Homo sapiens: one gene and its partners. The protein of the gene in region 1 interacts with the protein of each later gene in a biochemical or structural test. Each region holds a gene or a part of one and is shown on either strand. Other genes may lie near its edges.

What was found.
Region 2: the proteins of RIGI (region 1) and RNF122 form a complex in vitro, tested with the Homo sapiens proteins (one study listed by BioGRID).
Region 3: the proteins of RIGI (region 1) and CCDC50 form a complex in vitro, tested with the Homo sapiens proteins (one study listed by BioGRID).
Region 4: of the proteins of RIGI (region 1) and USP3, one has a biochemical effect on the other in vitro, tested with the Homo sapiens proteins (one study listed by BioGRID).

Annotation. Positions count from the first base shown.
Region 1 is NC_000009.12:32,454,161-32,460,700, forward strand, and holds the end of RIGI (antiviral innate immune response receptor RIG-I), read right to left. Parts: exon of another isoform or gene 5,355-6,540; coding exon 5,211-5,354; exon of another isoform or gene 4,882-5,210; intron 3,259-4,881; coding exon 2,962-3,258; 3' UTR 1,142-2,961; downstream 1-1,141.
Region 2 is NC_000008.11:33,563,444-33,572,449, forward strand, and holds the start of RNF122 (RING finger protein 122), read right to left. Parts: upstream 3,686-9,006; 5' UTR 3,281-3,685; coding exon 3,256-3,280; intron 2,463-3,255; exon of another isoform or gene 2,133-2,462; intron 1-2,132. UniProt on the Homo sapiens protein: May induce necrosis and apoptosis. May play a role in cell viability.
Region 3 is NC_000003.12:191,352,993-191,361,137, reverse strand, and holds part of CCDC50 (coiled-coil domain-containing protein 50 long isoform), read right to left. Parts: intron 4,051-8,145; coding exon 3,988-4,050; intron 3,141-3,987; coding exon 3,014-3,140; intron 70-3,013; coding exon 1-69.
Region 4 is NC_000015.10:63,499,930-63,508,120, reverse strand, and holds the start of USP3 (ubiquitin carboxyl-terminal hydrolase 3), read right to left. Parts: upstream 3,529-8,191; 5' UTR 3,382-3,528; coding exon 3,291-3,381; intron 2,404-3,290; exon of another isoform or gene 2,385-2,403; intron 1-2,384. UniProt on the Homo sapiens protein: Deubiquitinase that plays a role in several cellular processes including transcriptional regulation, cell cycle progression or innate immunity.

The DNA of each region.
Region 1 (6,540 bases):
ACTGCAGAACAGACACAAGAACAATGTGTGCTGTAAATCACTGTTTGCAGGGAAGGTGGCAGCAAATGGCACAGAAACCCACCTGACCACAGACTGCTTTCTTCTGGGCGTTCACGCACTGTGCTCCACAGGATACTCTTGAGAAACATTGAGCTATGGTTGGTCTGTTGTTTGAAATTCAAATAATAATGAATCCATTTTAAGGACAGGAATTGGTTTACTGACCTTGATGTTGGGATGACTCTTCATTTCAGGGTGAAAATATCACAGCATCAGCACAGGCCAGGACCACAGAGATAACAAGGTGGTAGTTGTGTAACAGGTTGTGTCTGAACCACAGGAGCTTCAAAACATACACGGCTGGACACCCTGCCAGGATGCTCTAATGGGGCTGGGCATGTGTCCATGAAAAAGACTCCCCAGTTGTTTCTAAAATGTGGCCTTTGTTCTAGAAATGCAATGACCAGCATTTGGGAGTCAGTCAAAAGATCCACTTCCTAAAAGCCTACCTGCTCATTTCTTTCATTCAATACATATTAACCAAGTGCCTACTTTGTTTGAGTCCATGCCTGGCAATGACATTATTCCATTAAAAGTCAAACAAGGAAATGCTAAGTTCTCCTTATTTATTTTCACTTCAGTCTGCCTGCCTCAGTTGGCTGAATAGGGCTATTCACCTTCATCCAAATTGAATCATTTACATACTTAAAAGAACTTTTCTTGGCCAGGCATGGTGACTCACGCCTGTAATCCCAACACTGTGGGAGGCCGAGGCAAGTGGATCACTTGAGGTCAGGAGTTCAAGACCAGCCTGGCCAACATGGTGAAACCCCGACTCTACTAAAAATAAAAAAATTTAGCCGGGTGTGGTGGTGGGTGCCTGTACCCAGCTATGTGGGAGGCTGAGGCAGGAGAATCACTTGAACCTAGAAGGCAGAGGTTGCAGTGAGCCGAGATCACACCACTACACTCCAACCTGGGCAACAGAGTGAGACTCCATCTCAGAAAAAAAAATAATAATAATAACTTTTATCTTATTAAATCTATTTCTAGTAGATGTTTTACACATCCTATTGGAGTTCTTAAACAATAGTGTATTAGTCTGTTTTCACACTGCTATAAAGAACTGCCTGAGACTGGGTCATTTATAAAGAAAAGAGGCTTAATAGATTCACAGTTCCACATGGCTGAGGAGGCCTCAGGAAACTTACAATCATGGCAGAAGGGGAAGCAGGCAAGTCTTACATGGCAGCAGATGAGAGAGAGAGTGTGTGTAAAGGAGGAATTGTCAAACACTTATAAAACCATCAGATCTCATGAGAACTAACTCACTATCCCAAGAACAGCATGGGGACAACTGCCCCCGTGATCCAATCACCTCCCGTCAGGTCCCTCCCTTGACACATGGGGATTATAATTCAAGATGAGATTTGGGTGGGGACATATAGCCAAACCATATCAAATAGCAATTAAAAAAAATCACATAAGAAAAGACACTCTTAATAAAATACAAATAGAAAATGAAAAAAAACCAACTCATAAACTTGGTTTAAATAATCCATTTGTATTGGGTCTTAGTAAGAATACTACTACTAGTAACTATTATCAAGCAACTACTGTGTCATGTACTTTTCACACATTCTTTTAATTAAAAACTCTCCACTAACCCTTACAGTTCAGTATTATCCTTGTTTTACAGATGAAGAAAAGCCAAAGAGAAGTTATATAACTGGCAAGTTTCTCTGGCTCCCCGCCTGCACCACTGCTCACCAGATTGCATGAAGAGGGAGGCAGCTGTAACACCTCATCCCGTTGATCTCCAGGGAACTCAGATACTTGTTTCCACGTCCAGGAAACCGCAAACTAAGCTCTTTGAAGCATCAGCAAACCTTGCTAAGTGACACGTGAATGCCATTTGGATACATATTCTAATCTTTCAAGTAGAAAGGACAGTCAGACTGCCTCATCTGTAACATCCAAGGGATCTGAGAACAGACATTCAGTCCAGGTGTTGAACATCAACATCATTATAGGAAAATGGTCAAAGAGAACAATGGCACACGTTAAGAGAACATATTAATAGGGCAAGATGTATAGTAAACTAAGTTTTCAAGAAGTATTTTATCATTTTTATGCTCTCTACTAAAAGCTGACCACTGTAGAGTGGATACACATTGCTACATACAGCAACTCTACAGTGGACAGCTTTTAGTAGTAAGCATAAAAATGGCTTTATGTTCTCATGTTCTCTGTGTAGCCATACCACACGTTGCTACACCAGGAACATGAGTACATATAACCATTACATATACATACCTGTATGTATGTATATTAGTTACATATACATATGTACAGTATATACATGTATATATATTGAACCCTTGGAAGGGATCAGCAAAGAGGAGGACTCAATAAAAAAAGACTAGAATAGAACTAGAAGAGAGAGAAGCCCAGGGAGAGCTTCAAGAAGAGTGCTCAACAGGGCCAAATGCGCAGAGGTCAAATAGAAGGTTAAGAAGTGCCCAGTGGATTTGGCAACCAGAGTCACTGGTAACCTTCAAAAGAACAATTTCAGTAGATTGTTAAGGGCAAAAGCCAGTTTACAGTAGGTTAAGGAGACAAAGGGAGATAAAAATTCCCAACATTCCATTCATTCATCTATCCCAGTGTGTACAGAGTGATTACTGTGTGTTTGTTGGCAGTTGACTCTAAAAAGAAGGCTAGAAATGAGGCTTTTTAATTTTTCCCAAGTACTATGAGCTCTGTTGGCCTACAAAATACTCAGTGCTGTGATTCACTCATTTGTGCTTTGCATATATAATATAGTACAAACTGCTAAAGATATTTTTAAAAAATATATTTTCACAGGGGTACAAGCGATCCATGATTATACCCACTATGTTTGTTTCTTCTCCACTCAAAGTTACTCATTCCCTGTAGCTGAAGATTGAGGACCTGATATCATTTGGACATTTCTGCTGGATCAAATGGTATCTTCTCAAAATGAAAGTCCTTCCACTTCGAGTACAGTGTCTGAACTCCAGTTGCAATATCCTCCACCACAAAACTTTCAATTTTTATAACTGGAATCTCAAATGTCTTGTACTTCACATGGATTCCCCAGTCATGGCTGCAGTTCTGTCGGGCACAGAATATCTTTGCTCTTTTTTCAAAACTTGAAAACTGCTTTGGCTTGGGATGTGGTCTACTCACAAAGCATTCCTTAAAAGCATCTCCAAGCACAGTGTAATGGCATTCCTACAGATGAAGGGATGGAATAACACACAAAAGAGAACGTTAGAACCAGTACATAATTGTGATTTAAAAAAAAAAAAAAGAAAACCCCACAATAATCTGAGGCAAAGAACAGGTGGGTCTCACTTATTTTACAATTGGAGGAAAAAAAAAAATAGATTCACCCAAAGTCCAGAGGATCCATGCACCTGACTCCCCTCTACAGGCAGGGTGGGGTTGCAAGTGAGGACACTGGGCACCTCATAAAGAAGAAGATTAAGAAGGTTCCAGGTAACCCAGCTTCTGAAGGTAGATACTCATTATTCAAAAACAGAAGCGATGTTTGCTGAAAATTTGTGAAGCTGAAGTTCACCAGTGGCCCTGGCAGGCACAATCCAAAGGATACAGGGAAAACGACCAAGGTCAAGATGCAATTGAAGAAGGTCAGGGACTAATGTGTCCACAGGCCCCACCTAGAGTCAACTTTAGAGTAAACAGCTCAGAAACAAATGCAGATCCAACATACTAGTCCCTCAGGAAAACATAGGGTCTAAAAGGGCCATTTTTAGTAGAACAATCACCCAAATTGGAGCTGAAAGGACCTTTTACAGCTAAAGAAGCAGACTTAGAAAGGTAAGGGAACTTAGCAATATGACTCCTAATAGGCTTTTTGCCCAAACAGCTGAGCTGATGAGAGATTTCTGCTTTCTGAAGACGAACGGAACATCCTGAAGTAATAACTCCTCATCTGAGCCAGCCCAGCCCCTCCACTGTGCCCCCCATGCAAGAGTTATACCCCATATTTCTCTTTGGAGATTTTTCTAACCCTTTCTCTGAAAGTTTTAAGAAAGAAATATAAGGCTGCAATAGAAGGCTAATCTGCAGATGTCACATTTTACAAATAAGGAGATATTTTGTTTTCATTATAAAAGTGATCCATAGCCCAAAAGGAATGTTTGGAAAACATAAGGTAGTAGGAAAAGAGAAAAAAAGTCATGGAATCTCACCACCAAAATATTAATACATTTTGGTATAGTTCCCCTAGCCTTTGTTTTTCTGTAGCAAGGTAGGTTTTTTGACTTTTTCTCTTGACAATGACAATGAATGTATTTGCTGCTGTTGTTTCACACAGCTACAAAGTAGCATCTTTACAATTCTGTGTTCTGGTTACTTTTTTCCTTATTACCATTAGTTTGTAAGCAGTTTTTCATTATACTACATAAACTTCATAATTTTTTAAAATAAACTTTACTTTGGAACAATTTTAGATTTAAAGAAAAATTGCAAAGATATCCCAGAAAATTTCTGCATACCCTTTACCCAGTTTCCCCAAATGTTAACATCTCATATACCACAGCACATTTGTCAAAACCAAGATAATTAACATCAGTACATTACTATTATCTAAACTACAGATTTTACCACTCTTTCTCTAGTTGTATCCTTTATCTGTTCCAGGAGCTAATCCAGGACACGTCATTGCATTTAGCATGACTTTTTTTTTTTTTTTTTTGAGACAGAGTCTTGCTCTGTCACCCAGGCTGGAGCGCAGTGGCGCGATATCAGCTCACCGCAACCTCTGCCTCCCGGTTCAAGCGATTCTCCTGCCTCAGCCTCCCGAGTAACTAAGATTACAGCCACCTGCCACTACGCCCAGCTAACTTTTTTATTTTTAGTAGAGACGGGGTTTCACCATGTTGGCCGGGCTGGTCTCGAACTCCTGACCTCGTGATCGCCCACCTTGGCCTCCCAAAGTGTTTTGATTACAGGCATGAGCCACTATGCCTGGCCAAAAACTATTTCTTTATTATTGAACATTTAGTATTTTTTTTTCACTTCTTAGCTTTTTTTAAATACACAGATCATGGCCACAGTAACAATGGAAATAATAGTAGTTTTATTATAAATATTTCACCAACAGTAAGCTGTAGCTAGTGCTAAAACATGACCAGGCACTTTGTAAAAAGGCAGCTTACCTCTATCACTCTTACGTCAGCTGTGTAACATGCCAAGGCTTTGCACTTTCTGCAGAGCAGTTTTTTATTTTCCTTATCAGGTACAGGTTTTGGTTTTTCTTGACTATCTCTGATGAATTTTTCATGAGTCTGTATATGCAGAATCTAATGCAAAAAGAAAGACCGCAAATGTAATTTGAGTACAACATATATAGCAAGAAACAGGCACAGATACGTACAATACATATACATGCACGCACATGTATAATCATTCATATACAACTTCCATGAACATATGGTACCTGACTTTGTAAAATCACAGATTTTATTGGTTCTCCTAACTTAGTATTAGTCAATGCTTAATTGTGGCCTCCAATTAGTCTTTCAATTTCTTCATCAAAAATGCTCATAAAAGCACTAAAGATGTCCATAGAATAGTCATATGAACTATGCTTTCTACTTTAGTGTTTGGCAAAACTTGGGAAAAAAAACAAAACCTGTACCAGATATACAATATGCGCTGTTTCAGGCATAATTATATCCATTTGCAGGCACAAACTCAGTGAGTGATACAACAGGCAGAAGAGCCCCTGATATGGTTTGGCTGTGTCCTCACCCAAATCTCAACTTGAATTGTATCTTAACAGAATTCCCACGTGTTATGGGAGGGACCCAGGGGGAGGTAATTGAATCATGGGGGGCCAGTCTTTCCTGTGCTATTCTTATGATAGTGATTGTGTCTCACAAGACCTGATGGGTTTATCAGCGTTTCCACTTTTGCTTCTTCCTCATTTTTCTCTTGCCGCTGCCATGTAAGAAGTGCCTTCTGCCTCCCTCCGTGATTCTGAGGCCTCCCCAGCCATGTGGAACTGTAAGTCCAATTAAACCTCTTTGTTTTCCCAATCTCGGTTATGTCTTTGTCAGTGGCATGAAAACAGACTAATACAGCCCCCAACATCTAAAACCTTTTTTCTCTCTCCCCTTCAGCCACAGGGAATATTGTTGCATATGTATAGTATGATTGTATTCTAATTCAAAATCTAGGCCTTGGCTAAGAACATGGTCCAACTTAGAACCATGGACATGATATTATAAAACTCTTCATACCAATAAACAGAAAGATCTCAAACTGAATGAAAAAAAAAGACAATCATAGATGCCAACACTGAGAAGAGAAAGATTTTAAAGCACCTAATAAAGATGCTTCGATGGGCAATTATAAATACTTTTGAAACATAAAGAGAAAACATAAAGGCTCAACAATGAAATGGAAGACATAAAGTTTAGAACTGAAAGATACAACCAAAATAAAAAGTTCAATGGATGGGCTTTCCATAGCAGAATGGAAGGG
Region 2 (9,006 bases), on another chromosome or scaffold:
AAGACTTTTTGATTAAGTTGAAATGAAAGAAATAATTAGCTACTAAACTTTGCTGTGCCCAACAGGAAGTTCCTTGTGTCTAGGCTCTAGTAGGGGTTAGAGAGAAAGTGCTTTTCACCACCAGTCCCCACCCAAATATTTACTTTCTGTGGGTCAAAGAAGAACAATTTTCCATGAGGACATCATGGCAGACTGGCTAGAGTGACAAACTTCAGTCTATGCTGGAAAAGGGGCTCAGGACTTCCCTTCCAACAAGACCTGGTGCTCCCAGCTGTTTTCTCACCTCCTTCCCCCGCACTATTTGATGTTACAAGAGGGTCTAACCCCCCGTTTCCTTAGTTCTTCCAGGCACCTTTTATGAGCTGAAACCTCCTTTGGTTTCCAGTTCTGGGAACTTGCAGAACCTGGTCAGAGCTATTACAGAGGATATCTGTGCACTCCACAAGCACGATGGTCCCCGCAAGTCCTCTGATCAGTTTATCCCCACCAACTTATCCTGCCTGATAAAGGCTTCCCCTTTATCTCCCACTGATTGAATCAGTGAGCTTGGTATTTCACGTGATAAAGAGGTCGGTGGGAAGAGCATAGTCAAGAGGAGATGGTTCATTTGCTTGTGTTACTATTAAAGAAATGGCAAAATAGTCTACTGGTCAAAAGCTGACACTGTAGTAAGTTTTTCTTTAAAACTGTATAAGGACAGAGAATACCAGCCCCAGGAAAGAGGGGCTCCAGGTAGTTTCTGAAGGGGTGAGGGAAGGGTTGCTTCTTCACAGGAGTCAAAGGACAGGATCTCTCAGTCACTTTTCTAAGAAGTGCAAAGAGGGCCAGACAAGGTGGCTCCTGCAGGTAATTCCAGCATTTTGAGAGTCCGTGGTGGGAGGACTGCTTGAGCCCAGGAGTTCAAGACCAGCATAGGCAATGTAGTGAAACCCTATCCCCAAAAAGTAGATTAATTAATTAATTAATTAAAAATTAGCCAGTAGCCAGGTATGGTTGCACACACCTGTGGTTCCAGCTATGCTGGGAGGCTGAGGCAGGAGGATCCCTTCAGCCTGGGAGTTGGAGGCCGCAGTGAGCCCTGATCGTGCCACTGCACTCCAGCATGGTTGTCGGAGTGAGACCCTCTCTCAAAAAAAAAATTAAAGTAGGCTGGGCGCAGTGGCTCACGCCTGTAATCCCAGCACTTTGGGAGGCTGAGGTGGGCAGATCACCTGAGGTCAAAAGTTCAAGACCAGTCTGAACAACATGGAGAAACCCCCTCTCTACTAAAAATACAAAATTAGCCGGCCATGGTGGCACATGCCTGTAATCCCAGGTACTCGGGAAGCTGAGGCAGGAGAACCGCTTGAACCCGGGAGGCGGAGGTTGTGGTGAGCCGAGATCACACCATTGCACTCCAGCCTGGACAACAAGAGCGAAACTCAGTCTCAAAAAAATAAAAAATAAAAAATAAAAAAAATAAAGCAGCAAGTCTAAAATCTGATATGAAAGGGCGCTGCCCAGAAAGGGCAGTGTTACTGACAGCTGCCTCATTTCTCCCTAAGTCTCTGTTCCATTGTCTCGGCCAACCTATGAAAGCACTGACATCAGAATGTCTCATCTCATCTGGCAGGCTGGGAGCAGGAATGACGTCAGACAAGGGCTGGCCAAGAAAGACCAGGGGATCTGGGAACTGCTTCTCTTTCCCAGCCAACGGGAATCTTTCCCAGATGCTAGGGTGCAAGGGCCTTCCTCAACCCCCATCCTCTGCCCCCTCTCCCACAAAACCGCCTATCACACACGGCTTGGTTCATTTTCAGGAAATGAGATCCGACCAGCAAAAGGAGGAAGGCGGGGTGGGGGGATGTGGGGTATACATGCTACCCAAACCCTGCCTCAAAACAAAGCCTCTTGACATAATTAATCCAAGATCTGGCAGGAGTCTACTCTAAAGAATGATTTTTTTCCCCCTGTAACTAGCTCGCTTGCCATACTGAGAGATAAGGCCAGCTGCTTCCCATCTCTCTCTCCCAGAAACTCTCCAAGCATCGGAACAACGCGGTCAAGACTAGGACCCCAGGAGGACTGGAGCGGGTGGGGTGGGGGGCGATTAGTATCCAAGGTTTTGAAGTGTCCCGCTCAGAAACACCTACCTTTCAGGTAGCTCGCTGAGGAATCAGACTCCAGCCTAACCCAGTATCACCTGAACCTCCAAAAAGCCTCAGGTGAAATGAACTAACTTAGAAGCATCACCCAGGCCTGGGGAGAAATGGGGCGAGGGGTTGTCGCGTCTGGAGGTGTGGCCTTCACTTGGGCTCAGGAGCAGACACCCTAATCTGGCCTTGTGGCCAGAAACACGGCTCCCGCCAGGCCAGCCTCGCACCCCAGGGACAGCCGGGCGCGGAGCTCTCTGCGAGGGTTTATCAACTCAGGAAAACGGCTTTTTTTTAGATGGAGTTTCGCTCTTGTTGCCCAGGCTGGAGTGTAATGGCACGATCTAGGCTCACTGCAATCTCCGCCTCCTGGGTTCAAGCGATTCTCCTGCCTCAGCCTCCCAAGTAGCTGGGCTTACAGGCATGCGCCACCACTCCCGGCTAATTTTGTATTTTTAGTAGAGACGGAGTTTCTCCATGTTGGTTAGGCTGGTCTCGAACTCCCGACTTCAGGTGATCCGCCCGCCTCGGCCTCCCAAAGTGCTGGGATTACAGGCGTGAGCCACCGCGCCTGGCCGAAAGCGACTCTTTAATCCAGTCTTCCGCAAGCACCCAAGCCACGCCAGCAGCCCGTGGGAAACCAACAAAGCCAGAGGAAGCTACCCCCGCGCCCAGTCCCGCACGCTGCACGGTATACATATTTACAATAGCCTGCAAAGTTTCAGGCCGGGAACTTGAGCTCCCTCTAGGAGATCCCAGCCCGAGTGCGGATTTAATTCTCCTCCAACAACCACAACAAAGAACAGAGTTTGAGCGCACAAAGGCAGGGGAAGGGGGTAGAAGAGCCGGGCCGCCACACAAAGGCCGGGAACCCCTCGGCTCCCACGCCCCCGGCCCGCCGCCAGTCCGGAGGCCCCTTCCAGGCTCTGGAGTGAAACCTGGATAGTTTCAAATTCCGCGCTGTGCAGAGCAGAGTGGGGCGCCAAGACGCCTTCTCGACTGTCCCATTTCAGGAGAAACTTGGTTCCCGAGGGAGGACCAGCGCGCTGCTGTCCGACCTCGCACCCCGCGCCGCGGCTCCCACCAGCCCCACGTAGGCTCGGCCCTCGCCCCGGGGACTCACCGTTACACCACTGGAATGGGTGCATCAATGAAGTCGCGGTTGGCTTCCTCGGGCGAACGGACGCAGGCGGGGTGCCAGGAGGGCGGGGTGGGAGCACTAGCGGCGTGAGGGGCCGCAGGCGGGGTCGGGGCAGCGCGCTGCAGCCGCCCTGCTGGAGAAGCCGAACTCCCTCCGGAGTGGGGGGCTTTGACGAGGCTGGTGTTCAGCCCAACAAAGAGGGACGAGGAGGAAACAAACAAAGTCCCGCGGAGCACAGCCGCACGGAGCGCACGCGCCAAGGGCCCCGGGCTGGGGGAATGTGGGGCGCCGCGGGGCGGGGGTGCCCGGGCTGCAGAAGCCCTCGGCCGGGGGAGGAGGGAAAAACCTTTGCCGGAGGCTCGGATCGGGTTCAGCGGCGCAGAGGTGAGCTGGCTGGGGTTCCGAAACTGACACCCGGCGGTGCACACCCCCTCCCTTTTACTTCCCCCACCAGTCCCCAGGAAAACTCCGCCCCTTGTTCGTCACCCTCCCTCCGACCAATCGGAGCCTTTCTCCTGCCCCCGGCTATTATTTGCAGGCCCAGCCTCCCTTCCCTGGAAGCCGGGAGGATCTTCGCACGGTGGGCGCCTCCCACTTAGTCTTCCCAGGCCTGGGGAAACTTCGGTCTGCAGAGAATGGAGCGGCGACGAGCGATGCCCCGGAGTGGGGGCCTGCCTTTTGCCCAGGGACACCAAGGCAAAGGAACAATTACTGCCACATTGTTTTCCGCCTACAGATCTGTTATTTATTTACTTATGTATTTGGAGGCAGAGTCTGCCTCTATCGCCAAGGCTGGAGTGCAGCGGCGCGATCTCAGCTCACTGCAACCTCTGCCTCTCGGGTTCAGGTGATTCTCCTGCCTCAGCCTCCTGAGTAGCTGGGATTACAGGCGCTTACCACCATGCCCAGATAATTTTTGTATTTTTAATAGCGACGGGGTTTCGCCATGTTGGACAGGCTGTTCTCGAACTCCTGGCCTCAAGTGATCCTCCTGCTTCAGCCTTCCAAAGTGCTGGGATTATAGGCGTGAGCCACCGCTCCCGGCCCTCTTTTTCTTTTTTGAGTTAGAGTCTTGCTCTGTCACTCAGCTGGAGTGCAGCGGTGCAATAATAGCTTACTGCAGCCTCCAACTTCTGGGCCCAAGCAGTCCTGCCACCTTAGCCTCCCAAGAAACTGGGACCACAGGTGCCTGCCACCAAGCCCAGCTACTTTTTAATTGTTTTGTATAGATGAGTGGCCTCACTATGTTGCTCAGGCTGGTCTCGAACTCCTGGACTCAAGTGATCCTCCCGCCTGAGCCTCCCAGATTGCTGGGATTACAGGCATGAGCCATGGCACCCAGGACATTTCATTTCTTAATTGGATAATTGCAAAAGCTTCCTAACTGGCCATTCTGATTCTAGTCTATAGCTCAGACTTCAGAGCCTACAAGAATCACTCCTATGTTTGAGATGTAACATGCAGATTCCCAGGCCTTGAACCCAGAGATTCTGATTCAATAAAGGGTGGACCCAGAAATTTTCATTTTAATGTGCCTTGTCTTCCCCACCCCTCAAATTCTCATGCGGCTATTGAAAGAAACAGTGCTCTGATTTCACTCTCAAGTCCATCCCTTCTGGTCACAATTATCTCTGTAAAATGTAAATCTGAACATTTCTTTGCTTGATAACGTTTGTTGGTCTCCAGTGTTTACTGAATAAAGTTCTGTAAACTAGAGTGTGGCATTCAAAATGTTTCAGTCTAGACTCACTCCTATAATCTCAAAACTTCGGGAGGCTGAGGCGGGCAGATTGCTTGAGCTCAAGAGTTTGAGACCATCCTGGGCAACATGGTGAAGCCACCTGTAAAAAAAATACAAAAATTAGCTGGGCCTGGTGGTGCGCACCTGCGGTCCCAGCTACTCTGGTGGCTGAGGTGGGAGAATCACTGGAGTTCGAGAAGTCGAGGATGCAGCTGCAGTGAGCTGTGATTGTGCCACTGCACTCCAGCCTGGGCGACAGAATGAGACTACTCTGTTTCAAAAAGAAAAAAGAAAAAACTATTAAAATAAAGTGTTTCAGTCTAGCCTTATTTGTTTCAGTCTTCCTCATACTCAAATACTCCCCTTCACCACACACTATTCATCAGCCATGAAGCTTTTTGTTGTTACTCTTCCTTGAACATAGGCTGTGTATATTCTTTTTTGTTGTTGTTTTTATTTATTTAGAGACAAGGTCTGGTTCTGTTGCCCAGGTTTGAATGCAGTTGCATGATCTTGGCTCACTACAACCTCCACCTCCTGGGTTCAAGCCATCCTCCCACCTCAGCCTCCTGAGTAGCTGGCACTACAGGCACTCACCACTATGCCCGGCTAATTTTTTTTTTTTTTTTTTTTTTGTAGAGACTGGGTTTAGCCACGTTGCCCAGGCTGGTCACAAACTCATGAGCTCAGGCTATCTGCCTGCTTCAGCCTCCCAAGTGCTAGGATTAATGGGGGAGGCTATACATGTGTGGGGCTGGGGGTGTATCAGAACTCTGTACCTTCTTCTCAATTTTGCTGTGAACCTAAAACTACGCTGAAAAATAAAGTCTTTAAAAAAAAAAGTGTGCATAATGGTAACTATTGTTCTTTCTATTCATTGGCTCGGGGGAGAGATGTGATGGGTAATCCTAATTTTATTAAGGCTCTCCTGCTAACTGCCTCCAGCGCCAGACTGTGAAAGAAGGAGAGCCTTTGAAGGGAAAATTGATGGGAAGTGAGGAACACCTCCCGTCCCACTCGCCTTTGGACTAGAGGTTCTTGGAAGGAAAACACCCTTAAAGGTAGGAATGATGGAAATTCTTCTTTTTTTGAAACGGAGTCTTGCTCTGTGTCGCCCAGGCTGGAGTGCAGTGGCTTGATCTCAGCTCACTGCAGCCTTCGCCTCCCAGGTTCAAGTGATTCTCCTGCCTCAGCCTCCTGAGCAGCTAGGATTACAGGTGCAACAATTTATATTTTAAGCCTGATATTTTAAGCATTCAATAAGATCTCCAGAGGCACTTAAGGACTCCAATTTCGAAAAACTGCTGTATCCCTTCACACTCTCCTCCCTTCGTCCCTCCTGGCCAGTGTGGCCACAGGACCTCAACTGATGGCTGACATTGGGAGTTATATGTTGGTAGAAGGGCTTTGGTTCTGGGCATCTTTGAAATGATTGGTTCAGTCCCAGCATTTTCCTGGACTGAAGGGTTCTATGAAAGATAAGCTGATTTCTCACACCATGTCAACCAAATTTAGATCTCTCACTCCTCCACCCTCACCACCAGGTGACTCAGCTCCACATGAGTCAGGAAGACTAGTTTGGTTTATTGAGGAAGAAACTGAAACAGTAAAGAAGATGATGGGCCATATATTCAAAGCTACTTGATAAATATGAGGTAGAAATATGTTTCTAGGATGGGTGTGGTAGCTCACACCTCAGCACTTTGAGAGGTTGAGGTGAAGGAGCTTGAGCCAGGAGTTGGAGACCAGCCTGGACAACATAGCAAGACCCCATCTCTACAAAAAATAAACATCAGCTGGGCATGGCGGCACATGCCTGTAGTCCCAGCTACTCCAGAGGCTGAGGTGTTCAAGGCTGCAGTGAGCTATGATTGTGCCACTAGACACTAGCCTGAGCAACAGAGCAAGACAAAAGAAAAGAAAAGAAAGAAATATGTTTTAAAATCTTCCATGGAAAGGGAAAAAATAATACTAAACTTCCGGAAAAACTTTTTTTTAAAATTAATTAATTTTTTTATACAGGGTCTTGCTCTGTCACCCAGTGGTGCAGTGGTGACATCTCGGCTCACTGCAACTTCCACCTCCCAGGCTCAAGCGATCCTCCCACCTCAGCCTCCCGACCAGCTGGGACTACAGGCGCATACTACCATGCCTGGCTAATTTTCTGGGGTTTCGCCATGTTGCCCAGGCTGGTCTCAAACTCTTGAACTCAGGCAATCCCTCAGCCTTGGCCTCCCAAAGTGCTGGGATTACAGGCAGGAGCCACCGTGCCTGGCCTAGGAAAGCTTCTGAGGAGTCAAGGGATTCTTTTTATTCCCACTGCCTGACTCCAGCTTCCTCTTAGACACTCCGTGAGCCCCCTCATTTTAAGGCCTTGTGAACATTAGAGAAACACTCTGGAGAGAAGCAGTCAATTCTGTGGAGGTGCATGGGGGAAAAGGCCTGAATCACCTCCTTTCATCTTTAGTAAGACACCCTCTTTCATGGGCCTCCAAGTGTGACCCGATAATGTAGCAGAGAATGGTAACCATGGATGGTTGTAAAAAATGATAAATGGCTGGGGGCCATGGCTCATGCCTGTAATCCCAGCACTTTGGGAGGCCAAGGTAGGCAGATCACTTGAGCTCAGGAGTTCAAGACCAGCCTGGGTAACATGGCAAAACCCCATCTCTACAAAAAGTACAAAAATTAGCTGGGCATAGTGGAGTGCACTTGTAGTCCCAGCTATTCAGGAAGCTGAGGCAGGAGGATGGCTTGAGCCTGGGAGGCAGAGGTTGCAGTGAGCTGAGATTGTGCCACTGCACTCCAGCCTGGGTGACAGGGTGAGACCCAGTTCCCTGCCCTCCCACCAAAAAAACGATAAATAACCCCAAGTAAACATGTCATGTTTCAGAATTAGACAAATTGTGACAATATTTTCCCAAACTTTTAAATTTTGTATAAGAAGCATTTTCAGGCCAGGCACGGTGGCTCACGCCTGTAATCCCAGCACTTTGGGAGGCCGAGGCAGGCGGATCACGAGGTCAGGAGATCGAGACCATCCTGGCTAACACAGTGAAATGCTGTCTCTACTAAAAATACAAAAAATTAGTTGGGCGTGGTGGCGGGCGCCTGTAGTCCCAGCCACTTGGGAGGCTGAGGCAGGAGAATGGCGTGAAGCCAGGAGGCGGAGCTTGCAGTGAGCCGAGATCGCGCCACTGCACTCCAGCCTGGGCGACAGAGCAAGACTCCGTCTCAAAAAAAAAAAAAAAAAAAAAAAAGAAGCGTTTTCATGGGAGGGGCATGTAATTCTTTGAAGGTGTTGAGAGTCGTGCATTGTATATTGGGCAAATGAAGCCTTCGCGTTTTCTTTTTATTTTTTTTTTGAGACAGGATCTTGCTCTGTCTCCCCGGCTGCAATTTTTATTCTTGGAAGATCTAGCCTTCTTCTGTCCAGATACCCTAGAAGTCTCAGTAACAGGAATTTTTTTTTTTTTTTTTTTTTGAGACAGAGTTTTGCTCTTGTTGCCCAGGGCTGGAGTGCAATGGCGCAATCTCGGCTCACCGCAACCTCCGCCTACCGGGTTCAAGTGATTCGCCTGCCTCAGCCTCCTGAGTAGCTGGGATTACAGGCATGCACCACCACGCCTGGCTAATTTTGTATTTTTCGTATGTTGGTTAGGCTGGTCTCGAACTCCCGACCTCAGGTGATCCGCCTGCCTCGGCCTCCCAAAATGCTGGGATTATAGGCATGAGCCACCGCGCCTGGCCAGTACCTAGGTTTTTTTAGGGGATCGATGCAACTCTTGGCCAAAGGTGTTCATAATCTACCCAGCAATGCCCCCAGGTCCTAGTCTGTGGTTCTCCAGGAAAGCAAAGCAGCAATTTCCCACCCTTCCTGTCAGCTCGAAAACCACGTGGAAAGTGCAATCAGAGAAAAAGGCATTGGTGTGACTAAGGAGGAAAACACTTTGTCTCTCCAGAAGCTGGGGCAGTTCTGGGATGGTGCCAGG
Region 3 (8,145 bases), on another chromosome or scaffold:
CGTCGTCTCTCTGCCTCAATAGCCAGCTTCTCCTGAATTTCCTGAGCAATTTCACAGTCTTGTTGTTCACTAAAAAGCAAAGGTGAAAACATGAATAAGGAAAATAAAAAATAATGTATTTCCTAAAAGTAATAAATACAATTTATTGAATACTCACTATATGAGAAGTACATTATTTTTCTCACTTTATCTTCAAGATAAAGATGCAAAGAGGCTGACACGGTCACATTTACAGATGAGAAAACTAAGGTCCAGGGAAGTTGCATCATTTTCTCAAGATCACAACGAAAATATGTGGTAGAACTGGAATCTGATCATCACACCCAACAATGGAAAACTCCACACCTCTTCTATACCACCTATCACTTCACCCCACTGGGGCCTGTTTGACGGTCCTGCCTCTACCACTAATAACCACAAATCATTCTCTGTCATGCCATGTTATAAGCTATAAAAAAGTGTACACTTAGTAACTTCACATTACAGGTCTAATATCATAGTATTCTTATCTATTCAAACCAAAGAAATGAAAATAAACAAAAATCTACTCAGACCAATTGCTATTTATATTTCTTCTTTTCCTTCACTCATTGTAATAATTAAGAATCATACACAAAATCACGGACTTAGTTTTCAAAAGCCTCTGTCTTCATTCAAGCCTCTACCTGAACCTCCCAAATTAATGTAAAATCTGTATAGAATTAATTGACTAATAACTACATTGGATGTGATAATAAGTGGGAAGAAAGTAGAAGCACCGTAGAGAAGGCAAACCCAAATGAAGTGTTAAAGGTCACAAGTGACACAGAAGATGTATCTCCTGGTACAGAAAATAAATAAGTGAAGCTTCATCTGAGTTTAATGATTTCAAACCATATTTCCAAGAAGTACCATCTCTGGTTCAGTCAGCTAATTATACAGACTCCTGGGAAAGCGAAACTGAGAAAGCAGTAGTAAACAAGCGGTAATCCTGACTTACGGCAGCCCGGGTATCCAGACTGAATAAAAGGTTCCAGTTCAATGAAAACTGCAGCATTTCATCCTTCCCAAGATGTACAGCTATTAAAATTGCCAGGGAGTGAACTGAAAGACTTCCCTTCTAGCTTACTTATTTCATCCAGGAACAATTTCAAAACCTTGAAGTCTCAGGCAGAAATATAATACCCGGTTCTTCTCTCCTTTAGGACCTATAAAATATCACTCTCTACTCCTGATTTATATTTGAGTGGTTTGTCTTGATAATTTCTGAAAAAGCTCATTATACTGTTATTAACCTAATTCAGGATTTTAAACATCTGCATCAACCTCAGAACTGGCCTTTCTAACAGAGAATTGTGAATAATGTAAAGGGCAATGAATTTAGAACTCTAGAACATTCTAGCTTTGGTTCTCACCTTAACCTGTGACACTGAGCCTCATAACATCTCAAATATCTCTCCTCCTCTTTACATCTCCATTACCATGACCTTCAATTTAGGCCTCATCATCTCCTTCCTCTCTGTCACCACTGTCCTCATTCAAGCCTCACCATCTCTTAATTTGACCATTGCTCAACAGCTGCCTTCAAATCTTGCCCACTCCAAGCCTTTACCCACCTAGTCTACAGAATAGATCCCAAAATGAAAATCTGAAACTACTTCAAAGGTTCTCCATTCCTTATAATTTAAAATCTACAAAACCTGAAATCTTTAACATAACTTATCGTGACCCTTTTGATCCAGCTTTTGACTACTTTCCTGGCCTCACTTCCTACTTCTGCCTGTAAATACACTCTCCACTCCAGCAACACTGAACTTCTTGCAGCTAACGTGAGATTGATTCCAAGTCCTCTTACCTCCTGCCCTTATGCATGCTGCTCCTTCTGGCTAGAATGGTTTTCCCCATCACTATAAACTTCTAATTAACCTTCAAGTTTCAGATTAAACACATCGTCTTGTGAAGCTTTTCCCAGTCTCTTCTCTCTAAATAGGCCTGAAATTTACATTTCAATTCTCTGTGACTCATGCACGTATCTCTAGATACACAATGCTCAAGGTGTTTTCCTGAGGCCCTTAAAGGCAACAGCTGTCTTATTCATATCTCTGGTCTCCTTTCATGGTGCCAGATTTAGCATGAATCAATAAAAGTGTTTATTTACAAAATAAGGGAAGCTTAACAAAATGATTAATAAAGTCCTCTCTACAAATAATAAACAGAAAGACAAACCCTTCCTATAAGTTAGCAAAAATGACTGGCTTTCCTTTTTACCTGAATATGACACTGAAGTAAATTAAGGGGTTCCTTCCATTTTTCCTTTACCCCTTCCTCCTCAACACAGTATCTGTGGTTAAATCTACCCACATTAAAGATTTAGGATGTAAGAGCCACTCTCAAAGAAGAAATGTATCCTGGGAGCTTTATAACACTGAAACAGAATAAAAGTCACTGTGCCAAAAGAAACCTGAGAAATAATCATTTCCGTTTATCTGTGTGTTAAAGGAGGCTACTAGAGAGAACTTTTGTCAGACACTGAAGTTATGAAAAAAACTGAGTCTACACTTCAGAGCTTTTCAGAACATTCTGCTATGTACTGAAAAGCAAGGAAAGTAAGAGCGGCAAACACAGCTAGAACATAGTAAAGGAACCAATACAACCCATAAAGTTATTTGATGTCCACTATTTCACTGGATCCCCCAAAGAAACTATGAGGCAGAGGGGACAGAGATTATTATCCGCATGTTATGGGTAAGGAAAATAAATTCAGAGAAGTTGACTAACTGGCCCAAGGTCATAACAGCTAAAAAATGTTAAAATTCACACCATCATCAACATGTCCTTAAACCTGGTCAAGTGCTCCAACAAAAACAAAACATTTTCAAATCAAAAAAACTGTTAGACATCCAGGGTAAGATTTGTAATCTAACAGTAGAAGGAATCAGAGGAACAGAAGTAGTCTCCTTCTCCCCTGCCCTGGTTGCTAGCTCCACAGAGAAAACCAGTCTTGCATCACCCCTCCCACCTCCCAAATCCTCACAGGTCTTTGTAGCGCTTCTGGAGCTGGGCCTGCGCTTTCAGATCTTCCTCTTGGAGCTGCTTAGCCACCTGGAGATCATGCTGGACCAAACGGTTCCGCTGAACGTTCGATGCCAAATGATGCTCAACTGGAACAAAAAGATTGAGGACAGGAATGAATAATGTCTTGGTTTGTTAGTAATAAATGCCATAATAATCTTAAGAGCTTTACCATAACAACAGCTTTGCATCCATCACTTCATTTTATTGTCTCAACAACAATATATAATAAAGAGCAAGGAATTATTATCCCCACTTTTCCATTAAGTAAAAAGAGGATCAAAAAGATTAAATAATTTGCCTTTGGTCACACGGCAACAAAGTGGCAGTGCCAGGACATCTACACAAATATTCTAAAGCCAGGGCCAATGCTCTTTCTACTACTACATGTTGTCACTCTATTTATTAACCGCATTTTTCAAAATGTCAATTTTATATTGATATGTGAATTCACAAATCATATATTCACAAGTATGTACTTTAATATAACATGCATAGCTTAGATTTACTTTTCATCACCACATGGAAAAAAAGATTCAGAAAAATTCACAATGTGATCTCATTTATACCACAGTTGCCTGGGAAAACTGTTCAAGTCCCTATCCTAGGAGCAAGAATAGATTCCTTCTACGCACCCCAGATAAATCTACAACCATTGTGTCCCTCCTACAACAAGAGGCTAGGAAAAAGGTTCAAACCTCTCTTTTTCCTCCTACAGACGCAGCAGTCTACTAATTCCTGGCAGCCTATCTTACTTAACATGCCCGAAACTTCACTGATCACCCAGGCATCATTTGCCTAAAGAAATCCTTCAGGATGTATGGATGGTGAAGCCAAGTGACTGTGCTCTCTCCCCACCTAAGCCCTAAGAAACCAGCCTCAAGCTACCACTAAAAAAAGAAAACTGAAGGAGCATAAATGAGAGGTATTACTCACTCTCTTGTTCCTGCAGGCTGTGAGCCAGGGTGTGGTCCTCCAGGACAGCAAAATCTCGGCATACTAGAGTAGATGGAGGAAAAACAGACAGGAAGGCTCATTAGTAATACTTTAACATACAAAGGAAAGGATTTTTTTTTTTTACTTTAAAAAAAATCAATTCTAATATTTCAGAATGACACACTTTATAATTCTCAATGCATAAAATAGTGACTAGTTAAGTATGCAGTCTTTAGTCACAAAAATCTATAGTGCCTGCTTAGTGCCAAGCACAGGGTGTCACAAAATACTGGTTAGCCTTGGCCCCTGGCCTGAGGTGAGAACATTTACAGAATCAGATTCCAGAGGTCTAGAAATTCCAATCCACTTCTATAAATGGAGGGTTAAGTGCTGCTGAAATAACAGACGTATCAGTCATGCTTTGCATATTGCTACTGAGAGAGAACTGAGTTACTGCATAATTAGAGGTGTTAAAAGAAATCTAATCTATGCTTCCCTGTGGTTCAGACGATCCTCTCCCAGCAATTTATGTCTACCCTGGCGTCTTTCAAGAAAAAATATATTTTCACTAGTCCCTCAGGTAGGGGCAGAGCTCTACTTTAAAAATTCTTAATTTCTTAAACATTCTTCAGTGGGTCAATCCCCAGGGACATGAGTTAGAACTAGGTCTCTAGGTCCCTCTAAACCTTGGGCTGCCCCAAAATAATCTACAAACCAAAAGAAAATGGGAACCCTGAAGGAAACCAGGAATCTGCCCCAACTCTGCCTCCACCTGAAGAGCCAGGCAAGGGCATTTCCTGACCTGTCTTCTCAGAAGCAAAATGGGAAGAAATGGTCTTGAAGAAATGGTTTGGGGTAAACAATGGTATCCATGTTTACCCCAAGCTGCAATTTAAACTCCTGCTTCGTAAACATACAAACAGACAAAACATGAAGGATTCATCATGTAAAGTGCTGTTTTAAGGACGTGTAGTTTAGGTGATATGTTCTCACTCTATTCCAAGCATGTAATTCATGTTAAAAAAAGGAAATTCCCCAAAGCCTCAGATTACTGCAATTGAGTAGGACTCATGAAACATTCCCCAGGGCTTAGGAAAAGTGATAGATTTCTTTCCGAAGCTTTGGATTTGCCTATGAGGACACTTAACTGAAACAGAATGAAAAACGTTCCTTTGCCGTTCTTTGCACTTATGTATGTTCACATATACACTCAACATTAGTTGTGTCCTTCACGACTGAGGGATAATGCCACAAAAAGGGAGGGAGATCTTGGGGAGGTCAAGATTATTTTGAAATGGTTTTATAATGGAGGAATAATTCTTGCCCAAGAACTATATTCAACTGGATACAACCTGCTTAATCCTCGCTCAAACATAACAGCAAAACCAGTAATTCGAACAGAAAGCCCTGTTCTTTTTCATCAGCTTTTCATATTCTCAACCGATTCTAATATCTTGAAGCCCAGGTCCTAGTTACCTTATGTTTCACAGAATAAAAGTAGTTTCAAGATGAGCTAGATAACACCCTCATTTAATAAGTGAGGAAACTGAAAGCCAGAAGGAAGAAGGGGTTTTCTAAGGCTGTACAGAGTTCACTGGTGACAGGGCTTGGGGGTCAACATCTAAGCCAGCAAGAGCTCAAGAGCTCCTTCCCCTTCCCTGACACAATGATGGCCCTCCTTCCCTCCAGGTAAATCATGGTAAGAATAGACAGAAAGAAAATATTCTACATTAACCATCGCATATTCTCTAAAACACTTCAATTAATTAATATCTAATTTTTAAATGGGTAAGACATACACGGACTTAATTTACAAAAATTAATGAATTAGCTAAAATAAATATAATCAAATCTTGTGTAAAGAATGTTATTTTAATGTATTGACCTATCATTTAAAACACCTTTATTATACTGGAAAAGCTTGTGCTTATATATTAAAAGTCAGTCTTAATTTTAGATTAATTATGATTAGATCAAATTTAAGATTACTCTTAATGATTTTCAAATTATGGGTGGCAATCTATTATTAGGTCAAAAAATCAATTTACTAAGCCTGAGAAAGGCATTTTAAAAGTCAATAGTCTAGAGAATAACAGAGGACAGTTGGCTCTCATAGCCCTGAGTTTTGGATTCATGGATTAAATCAACCACAAATAAAAAATATTCAGGAAAAAAAAATGTGGCTGTACTGAATACATACAGACATTTTTTCTTATCATTGTTTCCTAAATGAACGGTATTAGGTAGTATAAGTAATCTACAGACAATGTGAAGTATACAGTAGAATATGTATGAATTATATGCAAATACTACCCCATTTTATATTAGGGGCTGAAGTATCCATAGATTTTTAGTATCCATGTGAGGTCTTGGAACCACCTCTACACCCCACCCCACAAATACGAAGGGACTAGTATAAATCACACACAGTACAGGAAACTAGTTTGGGGAAACTTTTCCCGTATTATATATAAACATCACAGAAATATATACATACAGAGATGATAGGTACTAGGTCAAAATGTAAAACACACATCATTCTATAGATTACAAAAAGCTTAAAAGCCACTTCAATTTATGTTATTAGGTCAGAACGTTACGCCAAAAATATGTTTTCTATGTTTCTAATACCATGCTAACTAAAATTAAAAATTATGAAATTATTACATTTTTCCATGTGGAGAATCATGTGAAGAACTACAATAATTTTAAAAATATTTCTTAACTTCAGTCAGCAGAACATTAAACATTAAAATATAGTTTGTAGATAGATATACCTATGGTTAAAAAAAATTTTTTTAATAATATGGCACTGACACAAACTTAACTCCAAACAGTAGTTCTCTCTCCAGAGAGACGAAGAGGGGCATGAGTGCCTTAGCTGCATGAGCCATTCTGCTTCAAAAGCAAAAAGAGAAAAGATACACAATAAGGCAAAATATTAACATTTGATGTGGGTGGTAGGTTCATGGGTTTTTCTATTTCCTGTGCTTTTTAAATGTCTTACATATTACATTTTAAGTTCTATAATTAAATTCACTTATTTCATGTTGTCAACAGCACATATTGCTAAACCATGAACATGAAGATATGGTTTGACACATTATAACAGGTGTGAGAAATTTCCGAATTGCTGATTACCTTGATGACTCCTCATAATGATTTCTTACTATCTCAACAGCAAGACTGAAGTATATTCTATTATTGCAATTTGTCCCTGAATCTGCAGAAGCTGAACTAGTACCCAAAAGATATGAGGAGGGCCTGAGCTAGAAGGGGATCTGGAAGATTTTCAATGATTATGAGGAAGTACATGAACACATACACACAGAGAGTTGTATTGTCAAATACACTGACTTTGCCCTTCGGAGGTTACTAGGAGTTTCCAAACATATAATCTCATTTATACTGAAATATTACTTGCCCAATATATAATTTCTTCTGAACCCACTCTAATTTTTTTCAAGATTTGCCTCTGTATTCCCTCCATCAGTATTCTAGCACAACCTGGAAAACAATCACATATTCAGTCAACTTTGTAAATCAGTAACCAGATTGAGAATTACTGAAACTATTTCACAGCCAGGCCACGCTCAGAGCATGAAGAGAACTTTTCTCCTTTTCTAACCTCCTCTGCCTTCGATGTAAACAGCATAAACAGCCTACTGAGGATAAACGGCATACACTCATCTTCCCACCTTTCTCTGTGGGCACATTTAAGGTGAACCACCTTTCACCCTCCCATTTCTCAAACTTTTTGCCTCCCATGTTCACCTTCACTCATTCAGAACTCAGGCTGACCTTCTTGCCGTAAGCCAACTCTATCAACATCTTCTACTAGTCCCAGTCTGCTATTAAAATGAGCTTCCCACCATAGTCAATTACACAACTATTCTTTGTTCCCACCAGATCTCAATGGTCCCGTAGGCTCTCCCCTCTGCCCAGACATTTTCCCAGTGTTAGGGATGGTGGCTAAGTCTCTTTTGAACATTAAAAGCCGTACAACTCTGCCTCATTGCTTAGAAGAGCATTAACAGAAAGAAATGCACTTTGCTCTGAAATTCGAGCACACAGCTGCTTCCCTATCCAGCTGCAAGCTCTTCATAGCAGGGACTTTGTGGGTGTACTTTCTGCACCTTCCACACAATGTGTGCTCGT
Region 4 (8,191 bases), on another chromosome or scaffold:
TGTTTACAGTCATTCTCTCACAAGCATGCAGTGGGGTGTTCCTGAGGCTGCATGATGTGACATCTCAAGAGACTGAATGCAGAAGCAATGTAAGAATCCAGCTGTCTTCTATAAAGCTGAACAAAGAGTTACAAAAAGGCAAAATAATGCCATTCTTCCCACTAAATTTTTGTTTTGAAAAACATTTTACATAAACTGTCAATTTATGTTATGGGTGTGGGTCTATTATTATTTGTAAGCATATTAATAAATACATATTTTAAGTTTTTCTCAGTTTTAATTTCTAATAAACATCATCAACAGATATAAGCTACACGAAGGCTCTTCAGGTGCTCAACAATTTTTAAGAGTGTAAAGGGGTCCTAAGATCAAAAAGTGTAAGAACCACTGTCATACACAATTATATAACCCAACACACAGTGCCTTCCATGGATAAGAAGCTCATGCTAATTCTGAAGTATAATTACTTCTTACTTCTTGTAATCTTGTTGAGTTCTGTATCTCCCTGTAAAGCATCATTCAGCATAAAGCCAGTCTGTTCTAGTCCCCATTTAATGGGCTTTGGATATTTAATTATTCAGAGTCCTCTTTACAAAGATGTTCTGACCTCTAATACCACCTATTACTAGAACAGTGTATACAAGTTTCTCAAAGTTTTCACAAAAAATTACCTTGTTCATCCTAACAGCAACCTGTGAAGTAAATGCAAAGTATTACCCTTTTCTTTGCAGATTATATAAGGAAACTGATACTCAAAGAAAATAGAACTATTTGTCCAATTAGGTACTGCTAACTGGTAGAACCTAGAATGTTGTGGCATTTTGCAATTTGCTTGGCTGTCTTACCGTGGTATAATTGCAAACTCGCAAAGAAAATAAGGCAAGGGCATTACTTTTATTGTCCCAGTGCCAAAACAGGGATTTTCCCCTCCTTAATAAGAACATAATCAGATTCAATACCCAGTCACAGTATTAGTCAACACATCGGCTACCCTTTTGGTCCCCTATGAAAAAAACAAAAATAAAATAAAATCAAGAGTGTGGGAGAAAAAAAATACGACTATATAACACTCCAAGATAATGAGTTAGTTAAGGACTCACAGATTCATCATTTAATCACTGAAACGACAGGCACGCAAGAACAAGATCAAGCTTAATACAATAACGCTAGATTATATCAACAAATGGATGCCAACGGGTTAAGACGGGAGGCCTACATAAAATGGGTTCAATTCAGAGTGTGGACTCACACAAAGTTGCGAAACTCGCTTTATTGGTTCTACAAATCCAAGTAAGTGACTAGACCCAGGCTTGCAAAGCTATATGTCAGACACACTTTGTTGCAAGATGCAAAGATGTCATCCTACCCCTTGAACAGAAATCACCCCACATACTAGTTTATTCTTGTTATCAGCACATCTCGTTATGCTCCATTTTAACTTATTAAGTTCCTCAAGAGATGCTCAATTTCCTGCATCTCTTTTTCACAGTCAAGTGGACTCCCTGACTGACAGAGGCAAGACTGACTCACAAGAGGGCATCTGCCACTTGCACAGTTCTTTTCCATTTTTTAGATGTATGTGCCCAGTGAAGCCATTTTTAAGTTTGATGTGATTTTACCTAAAAAATGCCAGAAGTGTGCTAATTGTCCATGTTGTCTTTCTGTAGTTTACTACAGATGAGCAAGAGCAATCCCACCATTCCCTGTGAGGTAGGCTTCTCCTAGTGTTTACTTTGGTCTTTTTTTTTTTCTTCAAATTTCTTTTGGGAAAAAAATTAAGTTACAATTATAGCACCACAGCAATGGCTACAGTTATAGCTAATGTACCACCACCAACCAATTTGTAAAGCAGTGCCATACACCTTATTTGTTGTTCTATACTCAACATCCCGACAGATTTACAGGTAAAAGCTAATTTACACAAGTTTCTGCATCCTCACAAAAGAACTGCAATACTGCTCTGTGAAACCAATTAACCGTTAATTTTCAAAGGCTTCATGCAGAAAAAGATACCTGACTTTACAAAGGCAAGCAAAGCATCAGACGTCTGAGCGCGCCAGGAAACCGCAGTTATTTCTATTCCTTATCCCAGAGTACATTTTTCTTTGTGGACCTACCGATGTTGTTTCCAAGAACATAATCACTATTTAAGTAGTAAGCTGTCAAAAGTGCTAAGGCATTCTCTAAACTATCTTCCCAGCTCCGGCCCACAATGAGACATGTCACAGCTAAATCATACCATTGCCGTTTTTCTATATTTCTTCAAATGAACTTCAGATTTCTGAAGTGCACAATTCGAATTGTACGCTATTAATATAACCCAAGATACCAGTGACCATCTCAAAGCTAATAAACAAAGACTAGCGGTGGCACCAGGGCCCTACCAGGAAGTAAGCAAAGCCGTGTGGCCGGTGCGATCCTAAGAAGTCGCTTAGAGCAGACAATGAGAGGGCACTGGGGCTTCCAAGGGGGCCAGCAGGAGTTAAAACGCTTAAGCTACTCAAAAGCCTTATATAAATCTAATAAGTGTTTCACAACACAGGAACTGGGAATCCCAACGCATTTTCGGACAACCCAAAAGGTCTGAAAAACAAACTCGAGCAGTCCCCTCCAAAGCAGCTGTTGGCTCAGCCTCCGAGCTTCTCAGCCCGCAGCCTGTTTTCAAACTTCACCATCCCTGACGGATGAAAGACCCCGACCTCCGCCGCCCGAGCTCCCAGCGCCTCTCGGGGTTTCGAGGTGCCCGAGCCTGCGGAGAAGGGAAAGGAAACCCGGGCCGGGTTCGGCGGAGGAGAGGAGCCCCGCGCGCCCCGCAGCCCAGACAAAGCTGCGCCCGGAGAGCGGCGCTCTTCCCGCCCTGTCTGCGGAGAAGCGCGGCGCGGGCCCCGCCACACGTGCGGCCGCCCCTCGGGGGCCGGACACCCGCCCCACAGGCGACCCCGCAACACGGACGGGCACAGCCCCCGGCCACGGCAGGGCGGGGCAAGGGCGCACGCAGCTGGCCAGGGTCCCCGCCTGCCGCTGCCCCCACGCGCTCGAGGCCTCCGCGGACTCCCGCCCCTCGCGGCCCTCTCCTTCGCTGGCCCGGCCGTCGGGCCTCGGGAAACAAAGGAGCCGCCGCCGCTCCCGCACGCGCCCGCCTCATCGCGTACCCTCCCCAGCCCGCCGGGCCCGGCTCGCCCTCGCCCCTCCCCGAGTCCGCGCGCCGGCCGCCTGCGGCCCCTAGACGGCAGGCCCGGCAGAGCCGCGGCCTCGGGTGCGCTGCGGGGCCGGCCCGTGGCCGCACTCACCGCTGCAGCACCAGGACGACGGGGAGCCGTTGGGGAACTTGGCTGAGTCCGGAGCAATGCAGACGCTGGAGCTCAGGTGTGGACACTCCATGGCCACGAGGAGGGCAGCTGGGAGGACTGCGGCTCCAGGACCCGGCGAGGTGGGGGCGGAGGAACTCCGGAGGCTCCGTCTGGTGTCGCTTCTAGCCGGGCGCTCGGCCGACGGCGGCTGCGTCTCGAGCCCTTGCGTCAAAGAAAGCACGGGCTTCCGGACGCCGGGTTTTCTCGCCCGCCGTCTCCCGGCGCCCCGCTCCGTAGAACGTGTAACTCCGAGATCCGGGTTCTGCAGCCACCCCTAGACTGGAGGCTTCCGCCTTTCCAGGCCGGCCCCTCCCCGCCCCGCCCCCGGGTCCGCCCCCGCCCAGCCCGCGGGGTGGGGTCCCGGCGAGCTCCAGCTGGTGGCGCAGAGTCCGGCTGTGTTCCGAAGTGACTTTCCTAGTCACGCCGCTTCCCCGGCCCCGGGAAGGGTGGGGCGCCGAGCAGGGCACCCCGGGCCGTCCGCGGCGTTTCCTGCGGTGGGCGGAGGATACTGAACCTATGTGGTGCGGACTACTCGGTGGCTTCGTGGTAAAAATCCGGCCGCTCCGCAAAGTGTAAAGAAGAACTTTAAAACCTCTCGGGCAGACAGGCACCGTGGCCCTCATTTTATACACGAAGAAACAAGCTGGGGAGGCCAAGGGCCTGGCCCCGGGGGAGGCGGGCAGCGGGTTTCATGGGTGCCAGGGCAGTCCCGCCCGACTTAGCGTTAGGCTCCTTGCGGCAGGTGCGATCCGTAGCCCTTTCTAGGTTCTGAACACGTGGCGTTAGCCAGCCACCTAGATGCTGCGTGGGTGGGCCCGCAGGGGCGCCCATGAACCCACGTTCAAATCCTGTCACTGTGACTCACCATCTGCGTTACCTCCAGCACATCGTAGGACTTTCAAGCCAGGAAGTTCAAGTGAGATAAACGTAGCCTGGGATTGCTGGGCAAGCTAAACTCCCCATTACCAGGCGATAAGAAGGGAAGGGATCTAGCATTTGTTAGATACCTAAGGTCTCCCAGCCAGGCACTTCCCATACCGCATTTAAGCCTCGCAACACCCTACCAGCTGTTACCATCCCCTTTTTACCGCAGGGGGAAACCGAGTCTGTAACTTGTTGATCTGTATGGAGATTGGATCCCTGACCCTCTGACCTCTTTTTAGTGAGGGATTAGAGAAGAGGGCAAGCCTCAAGGGGCCGCTTGGGCCGGCATACCCTGGATCGAGCCTGCGATCTCACTGGGGCACTTGAGGACGTCCGGGGCTATTACAAATATTGCTTCCAAGTTGGGGCTCCTTGTAAAACCCGGCGAAGGAGCCTCGGGGCCAGAAGGCGAGCAGGAGGAGGGGGAAGACTGATGTGGCAATCCTGCGGCCAGAGCGAGAGGAGGAAGGAAGGTCAGGAAATGATTAACCGGGCCGGGCAGTGGTTAGAGCCGGGCACCTCCCCGCAATGCAGTCCTAGAGCAGCCAGGGACGCCCCGTCAATCACTTCTTACTCCTCCCTACCTCCCACGCCACAAGTCGGCCTCTTCCGCATAGACCTCTGCCTAATGGTATCCACCCACCGGGGGCACCTCTGCTCATCCTTTCCCCAGAAGTATTTCTGGGTCCTCAAAGATCTGTCCTTTTCCAAGTGGTATTTGCTGTTAGAGCAAGCCTCGGCCTGGGATTTTTATGGCAGTGATGCGTTGTGGAAAGTGCGTCTGCCTAGGAAGGCAGGCCGGCATGCTTTCAAATCTTAGCTCTGCTGCCTACTTGACGGCCAGGCTTAGCAAGCGTCTCTAGCCGTTCCAAGCCTTTTCTAGATCTGTAAAACTGGAAGAAGAATACTTGTCTCGCAAGGAACATGTGAGAATTCATGAAAATTGCCACCACATACTAGGTGGCCAATAAATTATAACTTTGTATTTGTTTTTACTGACACTAGATGAGAGCTGCTTCCCTGGGAAGCGGGAGGAGGAGAAACAATAATATCTGCCCTTGGCTCAAGTTCTTCCACCCATCTCTCCATGTCAACCTATTTGTCTTTAAGGCCTTGCTCCACCAACCTTCTGTTTCCTCCGGACACCCACCCCCACTTAGCATCCATAACCCCTTGTTCGGCCCTGGAGCATGACCTCACTCAGGCCATGCTTCATACTGGTATGTAATATTTCTTCACCCTCTCAGAGACTCCGTTTCCTAATCCCCTAGACTTCAGTTTAAACATCACTTCCTGAGGGAGTCTTTCCCGACCCTTTCCCACCCGCAGGGTACCTCCCAGTGTGTGATGTCCTTGTCTGCCCCAACACCGGCTTTTAAAAACACTTAAAACAAAAAACAAAACAAAAAAAAAAACAGTGTCTCCTATATTGCCCAGGCTGGTCTCGAAATCCTGGGCTCAAGAGATCCTCCCGCCTAGGCCTCCCAAAGTGCTAGGATTACGGGCATGAGTCACCGCGCCCGGCCTAAAAACACTCTTCATGCGTGTAATTATTTGTTTAATGTCTCTCTTCCTCTTGTTTGTCCATAAGGTAGCAAACAAGTCTGTCTGGTTTTCTGCTTTATTTCTAACATGCAATGTAGAACATGGAGGATGTCTGATAAGTAAGTGAATACATGACATGAACGGGTGAGTGTGCGGTATGTTAGCCATGTCTACCATGGGCAAGAGCCTAGCAGGTGGCCCAATATTTGCCAATATTTGACCCCTAGAGATGATCTCTAAATTTCCTTTCAGTTCTAGCTTTATGATTTTAACGGAATCAGGAATGTGAAAGTGCTTTGTAAGGTGTAAGCTATTTTAAGGGAAAAAAAAGTTTCCATTAGTGACTTCTCTCCCCAGCTAGAATAAAAACCCTTGGGAGCAGGGGCCCTAATTTAGTCCCGATTGTGATAGTCCCCAGAGGGCAAGCTCTATCAGGCAGTCCAGAGAAGTTGGGCAAAATCAGAGAGGCCCTCCTGGGGCGTTTGCTAGATTTCCCTAAAATAGTGAACTTTCCTGTGTCTTTGAAAGTTTCCATAATAAGAAAAGAGTGGAGAAAAAGAAACCCGCAGTGAGTAAATGAGTCAAATGGGGGAAGACCATGAGGCACACTGGGAAATCTGCCTTTTCAGTCCCTCGTTTCTTCAGCTGCATTTAATACAACATTCGCGTTTTTATTCTTGGCCCGCATCCCTCTGGCACTGAGGAGCTCTGACTTACATCCCAGGGAGCCCTGATGGTGACGAGCCAGCCTCCAGCCTCCAGCTCCCGTGCTCTTGAGTGCGCTGCTCCCGGGATTCCCCACCCAGCCCTCTGGACATCCGGGGGCGGGGAGGGAGGGTGGTTTCCGCGGCAAAACCTGCCCGAAGCGGCGGGCCTGTTCTAAAAGTTTGCATTTTTCAAAGGGGAGGAATGCAAAATTGCAACCGTACTATCAAATGTTTCTCTCCTAAAGGATAATTGTGTATATACATGGAAGTGGGGTCGGTAGTGAGGGGAGGGCAAGGTCATATATTGCAGGGGAACCACTTCAGGAAAGGTCTCAAGGTTGCCGCGATTTTCCTAAAACCTTAAACTTAGGACTTTTGGCAGAATTGATGGTCCTTAACCAACAATTACAAGGCAGACCAGGCCCTGGGGAAAACTAGCTCTGACTATCCTCACCCAGGGAAGGCTCATTGGAAACACTCCGAGAGATGGCTTAATTATTAATATTTACCATAGAGATTGTTCTAGGAGCAACGCCTCCTTGGGAAACCAAAGTTATATCAAGAGGAGGCTTGGTAAGTGTTGGGGGCAGGGAATGGGCCGCTGCCGCTCAGAGACTCTTCTGTTGCCTGGTTTAATTTTCCTAGTGGCACCTATCTAATATTTCCTTGCATGTTTACTTGCTTATCTATTGTCAGTCTCCATGAGAACAAAGATCTTGCCAGTGCTGTTGGTTGCCTGATTTCCAGCCCCTGGAATACAGCCTGGTAGGTGGCAGGCCCTCAGTAACTATTTGTTGAATGACTAAATAAATGGAGAGGGGTGGGTGTGGGCTCCAACCACCCAGCTCTCACTTCCCCACTCAGGAATACTGGTGGTGTCATTCTCCCCACTACTTCCCATTTACCCCTTTCACATCATCTCCCTGCTGGAATTCTTCAGTGGTTCCCCACCTTTTGGAAAAAATCCAAAACCCACTGCTCTCACAGGTACCTGGCCCCTCCCTTTTATTATAACTTTTTTTTTTTTAACTGTTACAGAAGTATTTCAAATAGTCCCCTCATAGAAATTGTGCTTCCTCATACCTCCGTGTCCTCCCCTGTCTGGTCCCCTTCTACTTGGTCTGCTCCTACTCCTTCCCCATGAAGCACATAGCCTCTTCCGGGAAGCCCTCCGTCACTCACCCAAGCACACTTCTCACATGGTGCTGTTATTTTCTGTTCACATTTCAGTCTGTCTTGGGAATAGGTGTTTTGTTTTTTTTTTTTCATCTGAGGATTTTCAGCACCTAGTTCAGCAATAGCAGATCTTAAAAAATTTGTCCACTGAATGTTGTTGGAAGTGCTCCTTTTTAAAGTGATTACAGCAATAATTATATGATATGGTCCCCTAAGTATTCAGAGAAAGGACCTCAACTATTTGAGAACGGAAACTTACATGTTATTGGGTCCCAACTAGGTGTCTGATACTGTGGCAACTTGTTGGGACCCAATAAATACTATGGTTTTTATTTCTTCTTTAATCCTTCCCCCCTACCAATGCAAAAACAAAAAAACAAAAACAAAAACAAAACCTTGGAGGTGGATATTATCATCTCCATTTTACTGGTGAGAGAACTAAAGTTCAAAGAATGTTAAATAATTGCACAAATTTACACAATCAGTAAC